Regions from separate parts of the Homo sapiens genome. Here region 1 is linked to region 2. The links come from fine-mapping of genetic effects on gene expression. Tissue or cell type: whole blood. Region 2 holds a variant in brackets; the other region holds the start of a gene. All regions are shown on one strand. Distances are from middle to middle. Region 1 holds the start of RBMS1 (RNA binding motif single stranded interacting protein 1). Region 2 overlaps RBMS1 (RNA binding motif single stranded interacting protein 1).

Region 1 (2,911 bases), 74 kb after region 2:
GTTAATGGCTGAAGAAGGCTGCTGCGTCCAACTTCCACCCTCCCAAATTCTGGCGGCTGCTTCCAAAGCAGTGAAATTTCCAGTCTTCATGGCCCAAATAATTTTTTTAAATGAGTTCGGGAGGCATCAAATTCTTATTGTAAAAATAAGATAGGCCCACTAACAAAGTACCCAGGGTCCCTAGAAAGCCAGGCGCAATTTGTATGGCTACATGTCATCAACTGTTGTTACCCAAGAGTGTGCCGAGGTCACTTTTTAAAAAGCAACATTGGAAATCGATCTGTGGCAAACATATAAGCTAGTTTTGTTTTTGTTTCTTTTTTAACCAAATACGAAGTCACTTCTTTCTCTGCACTGAAATCTGCCCATTGTCCCTCCTTTGCAAAACCTCTAGAGATTAGAAGGGACATCAATGAACGCGAGTGAACTTTGGCCACTTTTCTACCCAAAACACCAGCGTAAAAGTAGAAATCAGTAACCAGGTGAAGTGCCACACCGCACAAAGATCAGAGGCGAGGGGCGGGCGCTCAGGGCCGGAGGCGGGGAGGAAAATATCCCGGCCCCGCCGCCCCTCCAGCCCCAGTCATCGCGTGCGCGGGAGGTGGAGGGGCGTCCCTGGGGGGCGGGAGGCTCCGCGCCACGGCGAGGGGAGCGAAGAGTTACAGCTTACAGGGCGAGGCCCTTGGAGAAGGGGTCGAAAAGCCGGGCCACCAGCGGATCCAGACGCGCACACCAGGCGACGGCCGCCGGCCAGCCAGGGCTCGGCGAGGGGCGCCGCTCGACCCCACGACCCTCCCCGCTGGCCGGGCCAGGAAGGGGCTGGTGGCTCTTTCCTGTCTAGTCTCTCCCCCCGCGGCTTTCTGTAACCCGATCCCCGCACTCCGCTCCCAGGGAAGCCGCCGCCCCGCGCGCCGCCCGGCTCTGCCCAGGCCAGCGCTATAGTTAGCAACCTTCCAGCAACTCCGCCCGGCGGTGGCGGGGGTTCGCCGCGCGCCCCCCTCCCCAGGCCTGACCCTGCGCGCGTCCCCGGGCCCCCTCCTCCGGCCGTCACCTCTCCCCGGCGCCCCTTTACCTTGGCTTGCAGATACTGGGGGTAATAGTAGGTGGCGTACTGAGGGTACATCTGCTGTTTCCACACTTTGCCCATGAAGCTGGAAGGGAGCCTGCCGTGCAGGGTCGCGGACACTTTGGGGTTTCCAAGTCTCGGGCTCTCCTGCCTCTCCCTTTCCGGCGGCGGCGGCAGCGGCGGCGGCGGCGGCGGCTGCTGCTGCTGCCGCTGCTCCACCTCCCAGCCGGGACCAGACGTCCTCCTCCTCCTCCTCCTCTTCCTCCTCCTCCTCCTCCTCCTCCTCCTCTTCCTCCTCCTCCTCCTCCTCCCAGGCAGAAAGAAAGACACTGCAGAGCGCAGAGGGCACCCCGGACAGGGCGCTCCCAAGGAGTTTCCTCCCGGAGCCCGACTGCTCCGGGGCTGCCAAGGGCTGGCGCGCTGGCCGCGGTCCGCTCGGGCGAGCCGGCTGCGCGGGGCTGAGAGGTGATCAATACAAGTGGAAAGTGCGGCAGCGGCGGCTGCGCTTGGTGCCAGGCGGCATCTGGGGTGGGTGCGCCCGATGTGGAGAGAGGAGAGGGGCTGGCGTTCCGAGGCCGTGGGGGAAGGGCGGGCGGGGGCGGGGCCTGGGCGCCGCCGAGCCCGGGACCCGCTGGAGGTGAGGGCTGAGTTTTAACCACTCCTCACCTCCCAGGCTCGCGGTTGGACGGGCGGAAGCCCTGTGAGTCCAGATCGCTTTGTGTCGGGGGTGGGGAAATGGGAGTGGGAGTGGGGGTGGAGGGGGAATGCGGGGGGACCCAGCTTAAGAACTGCAGGGCGGGCACCTCTTTTGCTTTCCCGAGTTTTTATCTTCGTAAGGGGGAGGGGAAATAAGGGAAAAGAGGAAATCTGATTAATCGTTCACTTCCCACCGCCCAGTAATTTTTTTTCACAAGGGAAGGAAAATGATTTAATGCCCAACAAAGCTGGAGTCTGGACACCTGGGTTCTGTTCCTCCCACCCACCCCCGACCCGGGGCCACAAGACTAATCTAGGTGACCTTGGGAGGGTTAGCGTCCTTCGGTTTGGTTTTCCCAGATGTGAGACGTGAAATCATGCCCCTTGCACAAGGGGAGGCAAAGCACATACATACATACACACACACACACACACACACACACACCCCTCACAACATATAGACGGATCCTTCTAAGAGGGGGATGCCGCAAAGAGGCAGAATGTTATTAGAGGACACAATATAGACATCAGCTTTTCTCTGCCTCTTTCTAATGCTGCCAGACAGTCTGTCAACTCCCACTCAGGAGCAAGGAAACTCCCTGAGTTTGGAATATTTTAAGGCCATTTTGAAAGTCACGCTGGCATATTGTTGCAGTGTGCTTCAGTGACATATAAAATCAATCTCTCTTTCTGCCTCTCTCCATCTCCTAATTGTCACAGCTCTAGACAGCCTCAGACCAGCAGTGGTTCAGTTCACTACATAACTAGATATAATTTAATGGAATTAATTGGTCCCCGAAGCTGCCTGCAGAAGACTTTTATATTCCAGCTCAAAAAGAGAGCTAATACCAAAATGTACATACGGATAGCATAGGTAAGCAAGCATCCTCAAATTAGGGTTCCGGCACATCTAATAAAATGTAATAAAAAACTGTGTTTGTTATTAAATAGACCTTGTTTACTTTGTCATTTTGGTTTTTGAAGAGTCTTTTGTTAATAGCACAAGGTAAATTAAACTCAACTGGAATGCATTATTTTGTTAAACAGTTATTATTTTTATATGATAACATTTTAAAATAGGTTTAGTAAGATACTTTAAAACAATGACAAAATAAGGACCTGAAACCCTTATAATCGTTCTATGGTTTA
Region 2 (2,911 bases):
CTATTAGTATCTGATACTTCATATTTGTTCAGGAACTGACTAGTTCCTTGCATTTCCTCTTCTTCCATATGCAGCATTCCTTTTAGTCATTTAACTGCTGGTGTGATGATAAAACCAACATGAAAAACTGAAACAAACCAGCCAATTTATTTATTGACTGCAGGTTGATTAACCTGAGGCTTGGGGATTATCCATTAATTTCATTTATCTGTAATGTTCCCCTTGTTATAAAAGAAAATTATAATTGATCTCACCTTGAAAGTCATCTAATAAGAATTATTAACATACCAAACTACTGATATAGCCAAGCCTCTAACACAGGGCTTGGCACATATTAAGTGTTTGAATATTGGTTCATGAATGTTGGAATGAATGAATAAGCAATATATTAAAAATGTATGCAAGTCCTATTCAAACAGATGTTATTATTCTATAAAGTTAAAACAAGCTTATGACTTTCAAATACTTAAGAAATACTTAAGAAGGTTTGTAAATGAGTCACTGTTATCTTGGGTGAGATAATTAATCACGGTTAATTCAGTGATAAATTTTACATTCTAATTTACCAGCCAAACTTCCTCAATATTAAAGAATATCATGCTAAATTCTGTAATTTGTAATTTCTTGATTGATTTAAAATATATTCTATTTTAGGGGGACTCTTTTAAGAAGTCTTAGAATTCACTTAAGCTATTTGCTATGAACATTATTAAATATATCAGGCTAAAAAATATTGCAAATCACTATAGGAACTGTTTTCCTCCCTTTCTATGCCTGTTTGGCCCTTTATTTTAAAAATGAATCATAATTTAAGCTTTTAGTGACTGACAGATTTTTTAAAGTAGGTGTATAAACTCTTTAAAAAAATTTTGTTTTAGTCCCATGTCTACTCCTAGGTGTATAAACTCTTGTAGTTCAAAATCATATCATTCGTTTCATTCTATCATTTAACATTTAAAAGGTTATATCAGTAAATAAGAATGGACAAAGTGCTGATAATTGCTGAAGTTTTTCTTTCCACCTTATTGTATGTTTGAAAATGTCCGCAATTCAAGTATTTTTAGTGGATGTCAGTGTATTAAAAGACTTGTGAGGTTGATTCAGAGGATCCCAGACAACAAAAGTAAACTGATTCTTGGTGCTACAGCACCTAGGAAGTGACTACATAGCCGGTTATAAGTTTTCTTTTAAATAACTACTTTATCTGCCCATTTACCTTTTCCTCATGAATCTCTCCTAAAAAAGAAAATGGGAAAAAAACCAAACATTTAAAAAGTTATGAGACTACAGTCTGGATAGTACAAA[G/A]GTTACAGTAAACCCATTGAGAAATGCTGCAAATCTGAGTGATGAAACAAATAGGAGGCTGCTAATTTCTACATTTGACAGTGAAAATACACGATTTTTAAATTAGCAGCTTATCTGTGATTCATACTGACTCTCTTCTCTTTCTCCATATCTTTTATGGAGTTTTCTCGAGCTTGAACTGCTGGAACTCTTCTGTTTTTCCCTCTGACTGGTCCTTATTTACTCCAAATTGTTGTATACCCTGCTTCCAAAATAATTTTTTTCTGGCCTCTTTGGCTGTATCACTCTACTTCCTAAAACTCCCACATCAAATGCAAATTTCTGAACAGCACTTGTAAAGCTCTCCACTTTCTAACTCCCTTGTCCCTTTACCTCTATTTCCAGCTACTATTTGTGTCTTGGCTGCCCATGAACTCACTCTTCTCTAGCTCTGAGCTTTGCCAGGAAACAGCCTCTGTTTTTCCATCAGCCAAACCACACTCATCCCTCCGTTTACTCTGTTGAAATCATGCCTCATGGTCTACCCACTCTGAGTTTTTCCTACTCTCATCTATTTTCCAAGACCTCTTGCTACATTTTCTAAGGATGGTATTAATGCCTAAATTAGGCCAGCTCAGTGTCTTTACATTATAAACTCCTCTATTGAAGATACAATGATGGCCAAGATTTAGCACATACTCCCCATACGTACTCTATTGAAATGCAGCCTGCGACAGTCAGCAAGTACCCATTGACCTGGCTTCACTGTCAGTCAGTAGTTCTCGGCCTCCTTTCCAGTCCAGCTCACCTGAGGATTATGATATATTCCCCTCAGTCACTGTGGCTCACTTCTACATGATCCTGAGCCAGAAATTATGAGGACACATGCTCCCAACTTTACTGAAAATTTTTGTTACAAAGAATGAACCAGAACATGGTTACAGGAACCCAGAAAAGATAAGCATTAACCTCAGTACCCCCTACAACTTTCTCTGCTATAAAACAAGTTTTGCTGTCAGATACATAAAAATTATAGCCTCTTGAGGTAAGAAGGTTTGGAAATGATTCACTGTTATCTTGGGTGAGCATTTATTTATTAAAACCCAAGATGGTACCACGATGTATTTTAGAATGACTAAAGCAACCAAGAATTACTTTCCCCGGATGGCACAACTTCTGTTGAAACTCCAATGGTTGACCGTTCTGTCTTCCCCACACCAAGAGGCACCGTCTCTTCCTTTTCCTCTTCAAGGTACAGCAGGACAGCTCTTGAGATCCACTCTAACTTATTCTTTTTTCTTTTTTTTTTTATTATTATACTTTAAGTTCTAGGGTACATGTGTACAACGTGCAGGTTTGTTACATATATATACCTGTGCCCTGCTAGTGTGCGGCACCCATTAACTCCTCATTTAACATTAGGTAGATCTCCTAATGCTATTCCCTCCCCCCTTCCCCCACCCCACGACAGGCCCCGGTGTGTGATGTTCCCCTTCCTGTATCCAAGTGTTCTCATTGTTCAATTCCCACCTATGAGTGAGAACATGCGGTGTTTGGTTTTTTGTCCTTGAGATAGTTTGTTGAGAATGATGGTTTCCAGCTTCATCCAAGTCCCTACAAAGGACAT

The links. PIP is the estimated chance that this variant, and not a neighbour inherited with it, causes the effect.
Region 1: RBMS1 starts here. The variant in region 2 is fine-mapped to the expression of RBMS1 in whole blood (TOPMed, PIP above 0.99).

Annotation. Positions count from the first base shown.
Region 1 is chr2:160,492,217-160,495,127 of GRCh38, forward strand. RBMS1 (RNA binding motif single stranded interacting protein 1) reads right to left here and starts at 1,591. Exons shown (of 14, transcript NM_016836.4): 1 at 1,073-1,591. The coding sequence starts at 1,147. RefSeq lists an enhancer at 1,132-1,652 and a silencer at 1,839-2,018.
Region 2 is chr2:160,418,562-160,421,472 of GRCh38, forward strand. All of the region lies in intron 1 of RBMS1 (RNA binding motif single stranded interacting protein 1), which reads right to left. Among named protein-coding and RNA genes, the nearest start is that of MIR4785, 12 kb to the left of the region's middle. The variant G/A (reference allele first, on the strand shown) is at 1,306.